Homo sapiens: one gene and its partner. The protein of the gene in region 1 binds, or shares a complex with, the protein of each later gene. Each region holds a gene or a part of one and is shown in the gene's direction. Other genes may lie near its edges. The genes, in order: PIGO and PIGF.

Region 1 (8,664 bases):
TAGCTTAGGTCCCAACCCAATAGTTCCCAGCCTTCTGAGGACCCATGACTCCTCTTTCCAGGGTTTGAACATCCTCATCCCTGTGTTAGACCGGATCCGATATGTGCAGAGTCTCAAGGAAATTGTCATCAACGTGCCTGAGCAGTCGGCTGTGACTCTCGGTGAGGGGTTCAGGGTGACATGGGTGCTCTGAGGCTATTAGGATGTGGTTGCTGTAGATCCAGAGCTTAGTAGAAAGAACTGGTTGGGACCTAGAGGCCTGACTTTCCCCGTTTTCTCTCCTGGTTCTACAGACAATGTAACTCTGCAAATCGATGGAGTCCTTTACCTGCGCATCATGGACCCTTACAAGGTACCTGTCCCCTACTTTATCCAGCCTTTTGAGTTGCCCTCTTCACTAAAATCTTGTGCCCAAGCTTCTTACACTATCCGTGTCCATCTCAGGCAAGCTACGGTGTGGAGGACCCTGAGTATGCCGTCACCCAGCTAGCTCAAACAACCATGAGATCAGAGCTCGGCAAACTCTCTCTGGACAAAGTCTTCCGGGTAAGCAGATCTGAGCCAGAGTTAGGGTTTGAAGACACAAACCTGACACTCTTAATCTTTTCTGAAGGTCAAGATCAGTCCCAGGCCCTTCTCAGTGTAGGCCCTTGATAGGTAGGTTGAGGCTGTGGGGCTTACACCTCTTTTTCCAGGAACGGGAGTCCCTGAATGCCAGCATTGTGGATGCCATCAACCAAGCTGCTGACTGCTGGGGTATCCGCTGCCTCCGTTATGAGATCAAGGATATCCATGTGCCACCCCGGGTGAAAGAGTCTATGCAGATGCAGGTGGGGGCCAAGGAGGGGTGGGAAAAGGGCCTCAGGGTGCTCCAGTACCAGGAGGATCCAGACTTCCCTCCTGTTATGATGGGTAGAGTTGCATGTCTGTATCAGTCTCCCTTGGCTTGTTGATTGGGATTGTTGTGGGCTTCCAGGTGGAGGCAGAGCGGCGGAAACGGGCCACAGTTCTAGAGTCTGAGGGGACCCGAGAGTCGGCCATCAATGTGGCAGAAGGGAAGAAACAGGCCCAGATCCTGGCCTCCGAAGCAGAAAAGGCTGAACAGATAAATCAGGCAGCAGGTCAGGAGAGGGTAGAGGCTGAGGGAGGAGCAAGGCATGGGCCTTTGAAGATTGGTGCTGGGGCAGGATCTTTGGGGTACTTTGACTTCATGGGTCAAGCAAGCTCTGTCCCTTCTCTTGCAGGAGAGGCCAGTGCAGTTCTGGCGAAGGCCAAGGCTAAAGCTGAAGCTATTCGAATCCTGGCTGCAGCTCTGACACAACATGTGAGAGGCCCCTGGGTGGGAATGGGGACAGGAATTGACAGTGGAAGGGGTTCTCTTATCTACGCTTGAGGAGAGTTCCGCCTCTGTGGGCTCTGTTGAGCCAGATTACATGGTCCTTTTTATTGTGAACTGCTTTCTTCATTCCCCATCCCCCCCTTCTTCTCCGTATCGGTGATCTCTGATTTTTATCCCCCTGTGATCACAGAATGGAGATGCAGCAGCTTCACTGACTGTGGCCGAGCAGTATGTCAGCGCGTTCTCCAAACTGGCCAAGGACTCCAACACTATCCTACTGCCCTCCAACCCTGGCGATGTCACCAGCATGGTGGCTCAGGTTAGAGCTCTCTGAGGACCCAGCATAGAGCACTGGTGCCAGGGACCAAACTGAGACCCCACCACCGTCATCAACACTTACATACCATAAAGGTCTTCAGAGTGCCTTGGCCCTAGACCTCCCTTCATTCTTTGTAGAGATGGAATCTAAGAATGAAACATCTCCACTCAGTCCTGCAAATATGGAAGTTCTTGAGATACCTTTTTTTGGTAGATACTTGTGCTGGTATTCTGAGAGTCACTTTACTCTGATGGTTTGCAAGATTCCTAAAATCAACTCCAGAGCTTACAAGACAGGTTTGAGAGAGGGAGAAAGGAAAACCAACTTACTGGCCCCCATGCCATCTTTTCCCGTTTAGCCATTGGTAGGCTGGGCTGCACCTCTGTCAAGTGTCCTCATGGTATTCTCTCTGTTCCTCTCCTCAGGCCATGGGTGTATATGGAGCCCTCACCAAAGCCCCAGTGCCAGGGACTCCAGACTCACTCTCCAGTGGGAGCAGCAGAGATGTCCAGGGTACAGATGCAAGTCTTGATGAGGAACTTGATCGAGTCAAGATGAGTTAGTGGAGCTGGGCTTGGCCAGGGAGTCTGGGAACAAGGAAGCAGATTTTCCTGATTCTGGCTCTAGCTTCCCTGCCAAGATTTTGGTTTTTATTTTTTTATTTGAACTTTAGTCGTGTAATAAACTCACCAGTGGCAAACCAGAAACTGTCCTCTTTGATTGGGGAATGAAGTTGGGAAAGTCACTAGCATTTTCCTTGGATCCAGTCCTGTCAGCATGATGCCTCCATGAATAAGAGTGAACTTCTTGTAAAGTGAAACTATCATTTTTGTCTTCAAGAGAAACTGTGGGATAGGGTGGAAGTGTTAAACCATATGTTCACTGAACTGCTGGCTGGGAAGTGAAGTCCCCTTCCTGCTAAGTGTGGGGCTGTGTGTTTGAGGCAGGTGTTTGGGGGTTTTTTCGTGGGAAAGAAGTACTTTCATGAGAAACTACTACCCTGCACTGGCATACTTAAAGGGTTTTCAGGGACTGAGGGTGCTCCTCATTCATTTATTCAAAAACATTGAATGTCTACCAAGTGCCAAGCTCATTACTAGACACTGGATTACAAAAATACCTGAAACCCAGTGGTCCCTGCTTTCACAGAATACAAGGTCAGGTAGGGAAAACAGACAGGAAGCAGACAGTGATAGAAAGTGATAAATGTGGCCGGGCGTGGTGGCTCAACACCCGTAATCCCAGCACTTTGGGAGGCTGAGGTGTGCAGATCATGAGGTCAGGAGATTGAGACCATCCTGGCCAATATGGTGAAACCCCGTCTACTAAAAATACAAAAACTAGCTGGGCGTGGTAGCATGTGCGGGTAGTCCCAGTTGCTTGGGAGGCTGAGGCAGGAGAATTGCATGAACCTGGGAGGTGGAGGCTGCAGTGAGCCGTGATCACGCCATTGCACTCCAGCCTGGCAACAGTGAGACACTCTGTTAAAAAAAAAAAAAAAAGTGATAAATGCTGTGGTAGAGGAAAGTTCTGGCTGAGGGATCTTGGTGGGAAGAGCATATCAGCTTATGAGTAGCAGCGTTGCTGATTGCCACTGAACTCAGGCTGGAAAAGTTAGCAAGTTTTCACCAAGTCAGGTCCTGGACTAGAATAAACAAAGGCTCACTGCTTGAGAGAAGTTGGCTGAAGGGTATAGTGTTAAGGGGGATGTGACTACATGGCAAGGGCCAAGTCACAAGGAATGAGATTCTTGTTGAAGGGGTTGGACATTATCCCTAGGGTAATAGGGTTTTTTTGTTTGTTTGTTTGAGACAGCGTCTCCCTCTGTTGTCCAGGCTGGAGTGCAATGGCATGATCTCGGCTCACTGCAACCTCCGCCTCCCGGGTTCAAGCAATTCTCCTGCCTCAGCCTCCTTAGTAGCTGGGATTACAGGCATGCGCCACCATACCTGGCTAATTTTTTTGTTTTTTGTAGAGACAGGGTTTCACCATGTTGGTCAGGCTGATCTCGAACTCCAGACCTCGTGATCTGCCCGCCTGAGCCTCCCAAAGTGCTGGGATTACAGGCGTGAGCCACTGTGCCCGGCCTATGAAGGGTTTTTTTCCCTTCCCATGAAGAATTTTAAGATAAAACATCACATTGGCCAGGCACAGTGACTCATACCTGTGATCCCAGCACTTTGGGAGGCTGAGGTGGGAGGATCACTTGAGCCCAGGAGTTGACCAGCCTGGGCAACATGGTAAGACCCTATCTCTACAAAAAAGAAAAAAATAACAGTAATCACATTAATGTTTTAGTTAGAGCTGTCTTGCTGCAATGTGGAGAAGGGATAGTAGGGAGACACAGGAGGCTGGGAGGACAGTGAGAAGGCTGCCTCAGTGATCCTGGAGAAGGGATGAGGTCTGAACTGAGATAAGGGGCTATGGGGATGAAGGTGGAAGAATAACTCAACTTTTTTTAAAAATTAACATATTCCTTTATTCGTTTGGTCAGTATGTGAACCTCAAATATATGCTAGGTGCTGAGGATATCATGAAGAAAACAGAATTCCCTGACCTCAATGAGCTCACATTCTACTCGGAGGGGATAAACCATAAATACGTGTAGAATTTCAGATGCTGATGAGTTGTGCTATGGAAGAAATTAAGGAAGTGAGGGGAAATTTTTCCAGGGGGTGTGGTGGTGGGAGGTGCTGAACTAGTAAAGTAGGGGATTGCAGGAAGCCTTGCTGATGTTACAGTTGAGCTTCAATATGAAGGTGATGGAGATCCATTTCGGCATCGGGAACTGAAGCTGACAGAGGAGATGGCAAATGCAAAGGTCCTGAGGCAGAACTGCTGTGGATGGAACAGAGTTAGGGAAGCAAAGAAGTGGCAGCTAGATGAATCAGAAGGGGAAGAGGCAGATAGTGTGCAGGGCCATGTAGAGCCAATGCAAGAACTTTTACTCTGAGATGAGAAACCAGTGGACGGGTTTTGTTTCTTTTTGAGACAGAGTCTTGCTCTGTTGCCTAGGCTGGAGTGCAGTAGCACGATCTCAGCTCACTGTAGCCTCTGCCTCCTGGCTTCAAGCAATTGTCCAGTCTCAGCCTCCTCAGTAGCTGGGACTACAGGTACACATCGCCACGCCTGGCTAAATTTTGTAATTTTTAGTAGAGTTGGGGTTTCAGCATGTTGGCCAGGCTGGTCTCCAATTCCTGACTTCAACTGATTCTCCAGCCTCAGCCTCCCAAAGTGCTGGGCTTACAGGTGTGAGTCATCGTGCCTGGCATTTTTTTTTTTTTTTTTGAGAGGGAGTCTTGCTCTGTTGCCCAGGCTGGAGTGCAGTGGTGCAATCTCGGCTCACTGCAACCTCTGCCTCCTGGGTTCGAGTGATTCTCCTGCCTCAGCCTCCCAGGTATCTGGGATCACAGGCGCCCGCCACCACTCCCGGGTAACTTTTGTATTTTCAGTAGAGACGGCGTTTCGTCATATTGGCCGGGCTGGTCTTGAACTCCTGACCTTAGGTGATCCACCTGCCTTGACCTCCCAAAGTGCTGGGATTACAGGTGTGAACCACTGGGCCCAGCCTCCCCTCCTCCACTCCGAAGGATTATTTGCTTAATTATTCAGTCGTAAGATTTAGTTACAGGCTTTGAAAGGAGGAGTAATGAAATCTCAGTTGGACTCAGCTAAGCAAAAAAGGGAAAATAAGTATTATCTCCATTTTACAGATGAGGTAATGCCTAATGATGACAATATGTGCGGCCAAGCTAGGATTCAAGTCAAGTTTGACTCCAGCAGCCGTGCTCTTAGTCGTAACCATGAATGGACAGTGGTTCCCTGAACTCTTCCTCCAGCTTGGTCCCCTGTCCCCAATTTTCAATTACTAAATATCCCATCAAACTGGGGCCAGCCCCACGCTCCTGGCCAAACTTCCACCGAGGTGCCGGCAGATGGCGATGGAGCCACCGACGGGCCACTCTGTCTGGCGCACGCATCTCTGTGCTGCCAGGTCGCAGGCGCCGCCGCCGCCGCACTTCCGGGTGCCATTGCAGGTGAGCCAGGGTCTCCCGAGAACCTCACCCCCCGGTATTCCCCTCACCCTGAAGTAAGGGAGTCTCCCTCTTCCCCTCAGCTCCTAACCAAGGTGCTCAGTACCGCGGCTAGGGTGCCCAGCGGGAGGCTGGGTAGTTACCGGAGGAGGCAGAGCCGGTCGCACGCCTGGGTCCCAGCGGAGGCCCAGTCGACTCTCGACCCGGGCCCCAGCCTCCTTGCGTGGCGAAGGTCGTGCCTCAGGTCTCCTGGCGAACCTGGCCGCCCGGAAGCGGAGAGTGACTCCTCCCCTTCGTCCCCTCGGTGCCCGCCAGGCGGCGCCGTCGGCTGGGCCCGGATTCCCCTGCGGCTTCGATCCCTTTCCACTGGGTATTGAGATTGGCGAGGGGAGAGGCGCAGAAACGGCGTGTAAGAGAGCCTGACTACCAATTGGAATAAGTTTCCCTCCTGACTGTTCACATGTACAGGCAGCATTAGCATTTCCTGCCTGTACATGTGAACGTTCCTATGCTCTACCCCTCGAAGATCCTGATTCAGTAGATCTGGGGTGGGACCTCATGAAACGGCGTCTCCCTCTGTTGTCCAGACTCTAGTGCAGTGGTTCAATCTCGGCTCACTGCAACCTCCGCCTCCCCGATTCAAGCGATTCTCCTGCGTCAGCCTCCCCAGTAGCTGAGACTACAGGTGCCCGCCACCCATTTTTGTATTTTTAGTAGGGACGGGGTTTCGCCATTTTGGCCAGGCTGGTCTCGAACTCCTCACCTCAGGTGATCCGCCCGCCTCGGCCTCCCAAAGTGCTGGGATTACAGGCGTGAGCCACCATGCCCAGCCTGGAAATAGGAGGAGAGTAATATTGCGAGGGGTTGGCTGTGAAATGGTTTATCTCCAGGAAGGTTTCCGGGAGGAAGTGATTCTAGCTGGGCTTGTATTCAGGGACCAGAATATCCACTGGTTCTTTGCCCCACAGTAATGAATTTACTTCCCCACCCCTATCAGGATGCAGAAAGCCTCAGTGTTGCTCTTCCTGGCCTGGGTCTGCTTCCTCTTCTACGCTGGCATTGCCCTCTTCACCAGTGGCTTCCTGCTCACCCGTTTGGAGCTCACCAACCATAGCAGCTGCCAAGAGCCCCCAGGCCCTGGGTCCCTGCCATGGGGGAGCCAAGGGAAACCTGGGGCCTGCTGGATGGCTTCCCGATTTTCGCGGGTTGTGTTGGTGCTGATAGATGCTCTGCGATTTGACTTCGCCCAGCCCCAGCATTCACACGTGCCTAGAGAGCCTCCTGTCTCCCTACCCTTCCTGGGCAAACTAAGCTCCTTGCAGAGGATCCTGGAGATTCAGCCCCACCATGCCCGGCTCTACCGATCTCAGGTTGACCCTCCTACCACCACCATGCAGCGCCTCAAGGCCCTCACCACTGGCTCACTGCCTACCTTTATTGATGCTGGTAGTAACTTCGCCAGCCACGCCATAGTGGAAGACAATCTCATTAAGCAGCTCACCAGTGCAGGTCAGTGTGGGCCACTTTGAAGGCCAGAAGTACCTTGGCAAATTTCTTCAAAATTTGAAGTCAGGGAGTCAGACCTTTGGGTGCCCAGATGCACACTTGATTATGGTGTAGGGGGACAGAGGAGAAGAAAGAGGCCAGGGCCCTGCTGGTAGGGAGCTCAGTTTGGGGGACAGAGGAGAAGAAAGAGGCCAGGGCCCTGCTGGTAGGGAGCTCAGTTTGGGAGACAGAGGAGAAGGGATCTGGGCTTTGTTCCTATGAAGCTTCTAATCTGAATGGAGTGTAAGTTTTATTCTTGGAGACCTCTCAGTAAAAGGGAGAAGGGAAGAAGAGAAGATGTGGATCTTGGCTTGCAAGTGTGGAGAAGAAAGCAGAGAAATACAGGCCCTGTTCATTCACTGACTGGGAAGAAGCAGGATACACCCAGGAAAAACAACTCAGTAGAGATACCCAGAGACAGAACTAGGAGAGCATTTTGTAGGAAGGATAAGTGTGAGGTCTGGGTGGAGTACGGTTATCAGGGAAAGCTTCCTGGTGGAAAATGTTAGGCCCTGAAGGATAAGGATTGCTGTATGGAATTGCTGTACTTTAGGTTGCATGGTTGGGACTTCTGATGGGTCTTTAAAGGGCCTCTTTTCCTCTTTTCTCCTAACCCTGACGTTTGCTCAGGCTCTGACTTCTCTTTCATGTCCCTGCAGGAAGGCGTGTAGTCTTCATGGGAGATGATACCTGGAAAGACCTTTTCCCTGGTGCTTTCTCCAAAGCTTTCTTCTTCCCATCCTTCAATGTCAGAGACCTAGACACAGTGGACAATGGCATCCTGGAACACCTCTACCCCACCAGTGAGCATGGGGCCAGAGCACTTAGTTCTAAGACTGGGAGCTGGGGAGAACTGCTTTAGTCCACAAATTCTGAGCCACCTATGGGTGTAACAGCCTGGGCTTGTATCCCTGGACATAGAGGAGTGTCAAAGCCTGGCTGGGGTTGAGGAGTGGGTCTTAGTCTTCTGTGCTCAGTGTTCTCCCCTTCACAGTGGACAGTGGTGAATGGGACGTGCTGATTGCTCACTTCCTGGGTGTGGACCACTGTGGCCACAAGCATGGCCCTCACCACCCTGAAATGGCCAAGAAACTTAGCCAGATGGACCAGGTGATCCAGTGAGTGTGGGGTATTGGCTGGGGGAGTGGGTTTGTGTCTGAGAATCTCGAAGAAGCTCTTATCTTAGAGCTTCTTTCCTGGCTGAATTCTGTCTTCTCTAGGCCTTCTGCTGAAGCTAGAGGCTCCATCCATCTTGATTAACTCAATGTGTAGCTTTGGGCATCAGGATCATGGCCGAAGACATGTCTCTTTGCCAAAGGTCTAGGCCTTACTAATGGAGTTATAGCTGGGGATGAATAGGCCCCTGGAGAAAAATCTTTTTTCTTTTTGAGAAAAATATTTATCCGTTTCTACTCCTGACACATTTA
Region 2 (8,600 bases), on another chromosome or scaffold:
TCCATCACTCTTCTTGGAGAACTTCTCAATATTGGAAACACACTTGACATGGTTGTGCATCTGTTCTGGTTTTGTAACTGCTGTCAATCTAGTACTATATTTAGTAGTGAAACCAAATACATCCTCTAAAAGAAGTTCATTATCACACAAGGTAAGGCTTATGTCTCAATAACTGATTTTTGGATGGAGCTAGTGTTTCTTTTAATGGAAGAATAAAGTATTCATCAAGTCTTTATTAGCTTATTTATAGTGAGCAAAGGGAACCTGATATTTTTCCCCCCAAATTGGTAGGCTGTTACTTGGTGGAAGGCTGCCCACAATGTTTGATTGATCCTTGCCTTGCATTAATTATGGAATTATGACTTCTTCAGAGCATATTATAATATTGTGAGCCTATATAGTCATTGTTTTATGTCACCATTGAAAATAAATACGTGTGACAGTCTATCTTTAAACCTTACTCAATAAGACATTGCAGTTTATTTTTATTATTTTTGCATTTCTGAAAGCCACTTAGTGGGATTTTCAGAAATTGCAATATAAGCCTGTGGTAATGCTTGTTTCCAACATGGCCTTCCTTGACTAAACAATTTTCAGATATTAGAATCAATTTTCCAGAATATTCACTGCAGTAGATATTCACTTGGCTATTACTAATAATGTCCACACTTAACATTATTTTCTACCATGTATAAGCTCTGTTAGGTCATTTACTGCCTATGATTGGAAAAGCTGAATGTATGTGTTATGTTTATATATTCTTAAGCTCCAAATCAAGAAGATCTCATGTTTCTTTGTAGATGTTCAGGTCTTTTTTCATACGGGTTGTGTAATATGAGTGTGATTTCAAGAATTATTTAGTATTTTGCTTTTTCAGTGCAGTTTTCCCAGGAATTTTGTTTTAAAATGAAAAAAATTGTTATTTTCTGCAGATATTTCCTCTATCATCGCATAATACTGTATTTTTTGTATCCTAGCTCTCTGATGTCAATCAGTATTTGATAAATATTGATTAATGACATAGCTCTATATTACCATGGAAACAGAACCTCTTTTCGACTCATGTAGGTCGGATGGGTAGAATATGGGCGGAAGGTGGTATTTGCCTTTTAGGCTTTTTTAGTCTGTATCGAAGGCTGTGTATGTGACGGTACAGGACATGTGATCTGATTTGAGTATACCCAAGAACATTTGAACTGTTTTACACATTATGGGAACAAGTTGTGTTTGTAGATGAAATGGAAGAATTTATTGTCCTTTAAGCATTATCTTGAATCTTCAGGTTATTCATTTCTCTTTTAGGTAACTGGATTTTTGAAATGCTGTATCTACTTTCTTATGTCTTGTTTCTCCTTTCATGTAATTTTTGTTCTGTATGGAGCACCACTGATAGAGTAAGTTTGAAATTTTTACCCTAAATTTATATTTTAAAACATTCATTTACCAAACTGTGTGCTAATTCTTAGCAACTAGAGAAAAACCATGATGTGCATCATTAATAGATCAAGTAAGGACACCAACATCATTAGCAGTGTTATTCTTTTTTAAAAAAAACAGCAGAATAACTTAATTTATTAAATACTCTTGTTACCTAGCCTTCTAGTATCCAATTGCATGTTGAGAGAAGGGAGAGTAGAGAAACTATACTATACCAATAAGTATTTGGCCCTTAGAACCTCTGAAAGAACTTACTATGATTATATGTGTAAGTTATAATTAGCATATCAGTTCTTATAAATGTGATTCTAAAGTACTTGAATGGAGTTTTTCTTAACAAAAGTCAATAGATTCCTGTATTCAAATACTGAATAAGCTGGTGTTTATAGTTTAAAGGTAAAATTTAACACTTTTTCTGAACTGACAAATTTCAAATTCTTAGAAACAAAATTCATGAATGTTTCTTACATAATGTTTATCATAGTTTGAGAAGCTTCAGTTTAGCAGTGATTAATGATCATGGTGAAATGAGTGATGAGATACATATACATATACACACACATATATTTGTGTTGCTAAGTATACCATTTTATATATATATATATATTTATACATAGTTTTACGTACACACACTAAACTGACAGGTTATTCTTTTCTAGATGGGAGAGAACAAGACCTTTGTAATGGAAAATGGTGGTTCCTGTCTAATCCATTTTAAAGCAGAATGAATGTGTCTGGCACAGTGGTTCTCAAAATGTGGTTTTCAAACCAGCAGCATCAGCATTTTATCAAAATGCAAATACTCAAGCTTCAGTCAGAAACTCTAGGGGTAGAGCCCCCACCAATCTTTAGTTTATCCAGCTCTCCAGGTGTTTCCAATATATGTTAACCACTAGTTGTAGAGAACCACTACAACTAGTATTCAATAGTGGTTCAATAGTGGTTCAATAGTGTATTGAACCACTAGTTGTAGAGAAAGTTCCAGAGAGACTATTGAGCAGAAAGCTAACTATCTAGAAATGGATTTTGTTTGTTTGTTTGTGTTTGCAGTGAAAGTCTCAGCATGGATCCTAGGGTCTTTAACACTTCTGAAATCTATCATTAAAGCGAAATACTTGCTAGATTGTTTTTTAAAGCTACATGTTGGTGGTAAAATTATTTATAGTCATCATTTTGGTGGCATTCATGTTACCTTTCAAAGTAAAGCATAGGAAGATATTTCACATTTTATTTATATAATAAAGATTATGTATGTGTATGTTTACCTTTAACACTTTTTTAAAAAGTAATCTTTTTTTTTTTCTAGGTTGGCATTGGAAACATTTTTATTTGCAGTTATTTTGTCTACTTTTACTACTGTGCCTTGCTTATGTTTGTTAGGACCAAACCTCAAAGCATGGCTAAGAGTGTTCAGTAGAAATGGGTAAGTTTTAATTTTATATTATAATGATATTGAAATTAAAAAATAATTAATGAAGTATTTTTCTATTCATGGCAGTTTGCTGATTATTCTGAGTGCTTCTCATTGCTGATGGTGCTCAGAGATGCCTTAAGGGGTCACTGCAATTAGGGACTGGGGACAGGGCAGGCAGAACTACAAGCCCCTCCCTCCACGTTAGCAAGATCAGCTCTCCTTTTTTCTGTATGGTAGAATTCCACCTAGCCTTTTGTTTGTTTAAAAAAAAAAAGAAGAAGAAGAAATAAAAAAAAATTCTACTATTAAAAGAAAGCCTTGAAAACCATGGTTCTGGGATAATTTGGCACTGTGATAAGACTGCTGTAAATAAAATTGCTTACATACATTTTATAAGGTAGAAGTGGGGTCCACAATCTAAAAATGTGTTGTGTAACAATGATAATTTCTTGTTTAGCCTTTTTTGTGATAAGATACCAGAGCTCAAGTTTTATGAGATTTCATTTCCTTGGTGGCCGTATATATTTTCAGCATGGCTAAGTTAAAATTTTAGCTTCTTGAAAGTCATTTAAATGATATGCACCAGAAATAGTGGAGATCTAGCTAAGAAAGCCAGAAGGTTATTTGATTCTTTCCTATTTATCACCCAGCAGCAAGAACTTCTTGAGCACTTAGTCTGTGCTCTGTGTTATTGTGTTATGCTAAGCTGTGTGTGGTTTCTGAAGTATTAGGAGGAATCTTTTTTTTTTTTTTTGAGATGGAACCTCGCTCTGTCGCCAGGCTGGAGTGCAGTGGCATGATTTCGGCTCACTGCAACCTCCATCTCCCAGGTTCAAGTGATTCTCCTGCCTCAGCCTCCCAAGTAGCTGGGACTACAGGTGCATGCCACCATGCCCAGCTAATTTTTCTATTTTTAGTAGAGACAGGGTTTCACCACACTGGCCAGGATGGTCTTGATCTCGACCTCATGATCCGCCCGCCTCGCCTCCCAAAGTGCTGGGATTACAGGTATGAGCCACCACACCCGGCCTTATTAGGAGGATTCTTTTGCTGAGGAGCTTATCTGTTCAAGGGACAAAAATGAGCAAATAACATCAGATTACAAATGTGTAAATCCAGCAATAAGTGGTGTAGGAACTCAAAGGGACAGAGCATCAGTAAAGAATGGAGGGGGAGATGGGAATGATCTATGATGGACTTAAGTCAAGAGTATATGATTTGGTGAGACCAAGAAGGAAGAGAAAGGCACCTCGTGCAAGGAGAATGGATAAAAGCATTGAAACTGAAATGAACAGGGTATTTTTGTGTGATTTGAAAGGTAACAGCCCAATGAGAGCAAAAGATGCATGCTGAGTAGCTTGGCTTCATAAATTACCGACTTATTCCCTTTGAAATCAGTACTGTTTGGGACGAGTGTGGTGGCTCACGCCTGTAATCTCAGCACTTTGGGAGGCCAAGGCGGGTGGATCACCTGAGGTCAGGAGTTCAAGACCAGCCTGGCCAACATGGTGAAACCCCATCTCTACTAAAAATACAAAAATTAGCTGGGTGTGGTGGCGGGTGCCTGTAGTCCCAGCTACTTGGGAAGCTGAGGCAGGAGAATTGCTTGAACCCAGGAGGCGGAGGTTGCAGTGAGCCGAGATCGCACCACTGGACTCCAGCCTGGGCAACATAGTGAGAATCTGTCTCAAAAAAAAAAAAAAAAAAAAAGGAATCAGTACTGTTTTCCCTTGGAACCGTCTTCTAATATTCATAAAGTCTCTAGAAAACAGAAGTGTAACAACTGAAAGCATTTTCTACATTATTACCATAATATCCCAAATGGTATTAATTGCTTTTAGCCTTTTAGTTTGAAATTTTTAAATAGTGAAATTGGATTGAAATCTTATTACTTTGGATTAGTGATTTCTCCAGTTTTCAAGTCTATGTCTAATAATGGGTGTATTTGGGGGAAATACTGTCATGTGATTTTACAATTAGTTCTGCTATAATGTGGCCTGTGTGTTCCTAAAAATCACTACGCTGTACAAAATGGGCAGTAAAAACCACAGAGCTTATGGGAAAGATGGGGTTAGGTCATAACACTAAAACAATTCATCAGTGACATGTAGAGAGAAGATGGGAACTTAATAAAAATGGTAGCACAGTTTTACACGTTTAAAATGGTTACAAAATACAGGCATACCTCATTTTATTGTTCCTCACTTTATTGTACTTCTCAGATATTGCTCAGATCAGATACTGTTTTTTATAAATTGAAGGTTTGTGGCAACCCTGCATCAAGCAAATGTATCAGCGCCGTTTTTCCAACAGCATGTGTTCTCTTCATTGGAAACTCTCACAATATTTCAAGCTTTTTCATTATTATTATATCTATTATGGTGATCTGTGGTCTTTGCTGTTACTTTTTGTAATTGTTTTGGGGCACCATGGCTCATACCCATATAAGATGACGATCTTAATAAATGTTGTACATCTTCTGACTGCTTCACCTACCAACGTGTTCTCTCTGTCTCTCTCCCTTCCCCACCCTCCCTCTCTCTCCCGTCCCTGTTCCCTGAGATACAAAAATATCAAATTTAGGCCAGTTAATAACCATACTATGGTCTCTTAAGTGTTCAAGTGAAAGGAAAATTTTACTTGTCTCTCACTTTAAATCAAAAGCTAGAAGTGATTAAGCTTAATGAAAAAGTTAAGTTGTCAAGAACTGAGACAGACTAAAAGTGAAGCCCCTTGTGCCAAATAGCCAAGTTGTGAATGCAAAGGAAAAGTTCTTAAAGGAAATTTAGTCTACTCTAGTAAACACATGAGTGACAAGAAAGTGGAACAGCCTTACTGCTGATGGGGAGAAAGTTTTATGGTCTGGATGAAAGATCAAACCAGGTACAACATTCTAAGCCAAATCCTAATCCAGAGTAAGCCTCTCACTCTCTTCATTTCTGTGAAGGCTGAGAGAGGTGAGAAAGTTACAGAAGAAAAGTTTGAAACTAGCAGTGGTTGATTCATGAGGCTTAAGGAAAGAGGCCATCGCCATCACATAAAAGTGCAAGGTGAAGCAACAAGTGCTGATGTAGAAGCTGGAGCAAGTTATCCAGAAGATCTAGCTAAGATTGTTGGTGAAGGTGGCTAAATAACAGATTTTTAATGTAGACAAAACAGCCTTCTATTGAAAGAAGATGCCATCTAGGACTTTTAAAGTTAGAGAGGAGAAGTCAGTGGCCACCTTCAATGCTTGACAGGCTGACTCTCTTGTTAGGGGCCAGTGCAGCCAGAGACTTTAGTTGAAGTCAATGCTAATTTACCATTTTGCAAATCCTAGGGCCCTTAAGAATTATGCTAAATCTACTTTGCCTATATACTGTCAATGGAACAACGAAGTCTGGATGACAGCACATCTGTTTATAACATGGTTTACTGAATATTTTAAGCTCACTTTTGAGACCTACTGCTCAGAAAAAAAAAATCCTTTCAAAATATTGCTGCTCATTGACAATGTGCCTAGTCACCCAAGAGCTCTGTTGGAGATGTACAAGAATATTAATGTTTTTTTCATGCCTACAACACAAGATCCATTCTGTAGCCCACGGATCAAGGAGTAATTTTGATTTTCAAGTCTTATTACTTAAGAAACACATTTTGTAAGGCTATAGCTGCCATAGATAGTGATTCCTCTGATGGATTTGGAAAAAGTAAATTGAAAACCTTCTGGAAAGGACCATTCTAGATGGATGCCATTGAGGACATTTGTGATTCAAGGGAGGAGATAAAAATATCAACATTGACGAGAAGCTGATTCCATTCCTCATGAATGATGTTGAGAGGTTCAGGACTTCAGTGGAGGAAACCACTGCAGATGTGGTGGAAATAGCCAGAGAACTAGAATTAGAACAGGAGCCTGAAGATGTGACTGAATTGCTGCAACATTATGATAAAACTGGAACAGATGAGGAATTACTTCTGGATGAGAAAGAAAATGGTCTCCTGAGATGGAATCTACTGGTGAAGATGCCATGAATATTGTTGAAATGACAACAAAGGATTTAGGATATTGCATAAACTTAGTTAATAAAGCAAAGCAATGGCAGGGTTTGAGAGGGTTGACTCCAATTTTGAAAGAAGGTCTACTCTGGGTAAAAGGCTGTCAAACAGCATGGCACGCTACAGATCAATCTTTTCTGGAAGGAAGAGTCAATTGATGCAACCAACTTCATGGTTAAAATTTCACTTTAAGAAATTGCCGGCTGGGCGCAGTGGGTCGTGCCTGTAATCCCAGCACTTTGGGAGGCTGAGACAGGCAGATCACTTGAGGTCAGGAGTTTGAGACCAGCCTGGCCAACATGGTGAAACTCTGTCTCTACTAAAAATACAAGAAAAATTAGCTGGGCGTGCTGGTAGGCCCCTGTAATCCCAGCTACTTGGGAGGCTGAGGCACAAGAATCACTTGAACCCAGGAGGCAGAGGTTGCAGCGAGCCGAGATTGTGCCACTGCACTCCAGCCTGGGCGATAGAGCGAGACTCAGTCTTAAAAAAAAAAAAGAAAAGAAATTTCCACAGCCTCCCCAACCACCACCCTGATCAGTCAGCAGCCGTCAACATCAAGGCCACATCTTCCACCAGCAAAAAGATTACAACTTGCTGAAGGCTCAGATAATTATTAACATTTCTTAGTAATAAAGTATTTTTAAATCATGTGCATTTAAAAAACTAATGCTATTGCCCACTTAATAGACTATGATACAGTAGAAATATAACTTTTATATGCACTGGGAAACCAGAAAATACATATGACTCACTTTATTGTACAATTTGCTTTATTCTGGTGGTCTGGAACCAAATCTGCAGTATCTAAAAGGTATGCCTGCACCCAAATATTACAATAAACATAGCACTTTTCCTTGGAAAAGGTTTCCTTGGTAAAGGTTTGCTTCTGGAAATAGACATGAGAAGGGTTGCCTATTGTGAGTTATTGCGAAGTGATGAGATGGTTGTTGGAAATCTGAGGGAAAATTAACACCAGATGTGCGTATGTGTGGCTCATGACACGTAGTAAACTGAGGTAGCTGGGAGGTGGTTATTTTTTAAAACAGTATTGAGATATAATTCACACACCGTACACATCATCTATTTAAAATATACAATTCAATGACTTTTTGCAACCACCAATCTACTTACTGTCTCTATAGATTTGCCTATCCTGGAAATTTGTTATAAATTGGGTCTTATGTGATCTTTTGTGACTGCCTTTTTTTACTTAGCATAATGTTTTCAAGGTTTATCTATGTTGTAGCATGCTTCAGTACTTCATTCCTTTTTGTGGCTGAATAATATTCCATTGTATGGATATATATCAAATTTTGTTTACCCATTTATCAGTTGATGGACATCTAGGTTCTTTCCACATTTTGCATTTTGGTTGTTGTGAATAAGCTGCATCAAACATTTGTGTATAGGTTTTTTTATGGACATATGTGTTTATTTATCTTGGGTATGCCTTGGAGCGGGATTGCTGGGTCACATGGTAGTGTTAAGGGTTTGAGAAGCAAGCTCCAGTGTTCAAACTCTGTAAAGTGCAGTTTGGTACTATCTGTAAAAATTACAAATATACTTCTTCGACCCAGCAATTCTACTTCTTGGATTTTAACCAGTAGGTATACTTGCACACTTACAAAATGTTGAATATATAAGATTACTCATTTCAGCATTGAAAATTACCTAAATATCCTTTAATAAGGGATAGGGTTAGGATAAA

Evidence for each region.
Region 2: PIGO (region 1) and PIGF share a complex: the UniProt entries of both Homo sapiens proteins name them as parts of the ethanolamine phosphate transferase 3 complex.

The regions. Positions count from the first base shown.
Region 1 is NC_000009.12:35,093,592-35,102,255, reverse strand, and holds the start of PIGO (GPI ethanolamine phosphate transferase 3, catalytic subunit), read left to right. Parts: upstream 1-5,664; 5' UTR 5,665-6,101; intron 6,102-6,279; exon of another isoform or gene 6,280-6,377; intron 6,378-6,689; 5' UTR 6,690-6,690; coding exon 6,691-7,201; intron 7,202-7,896; coding exon 7,897-8,040; intron 8,041-8,231; coding exon 8,232-8,355; intron 8,356-8,664. Other genes in the region: STOML2 (stomatin-like protein 2, mitochondrial), read left to right, coding at 62-161, 294-352, 445-546, 696-830, 977-1,121, 1,245-1,324, 1,530-1,658, 2,084-2,221.
Region 2 is NC_000002.12:46,606,488-46,615,087, reverse strand, and holds part of PIGF (GPI ethanolamine phosphate transferase, stabilizing subunit), read left to right. Parts: coding exon 1-151; intron 152-1,302; coding exon 1,303-1,394; intron 1,395-2,743; coding exon 2,744-2,860; intron 2,861-8,600.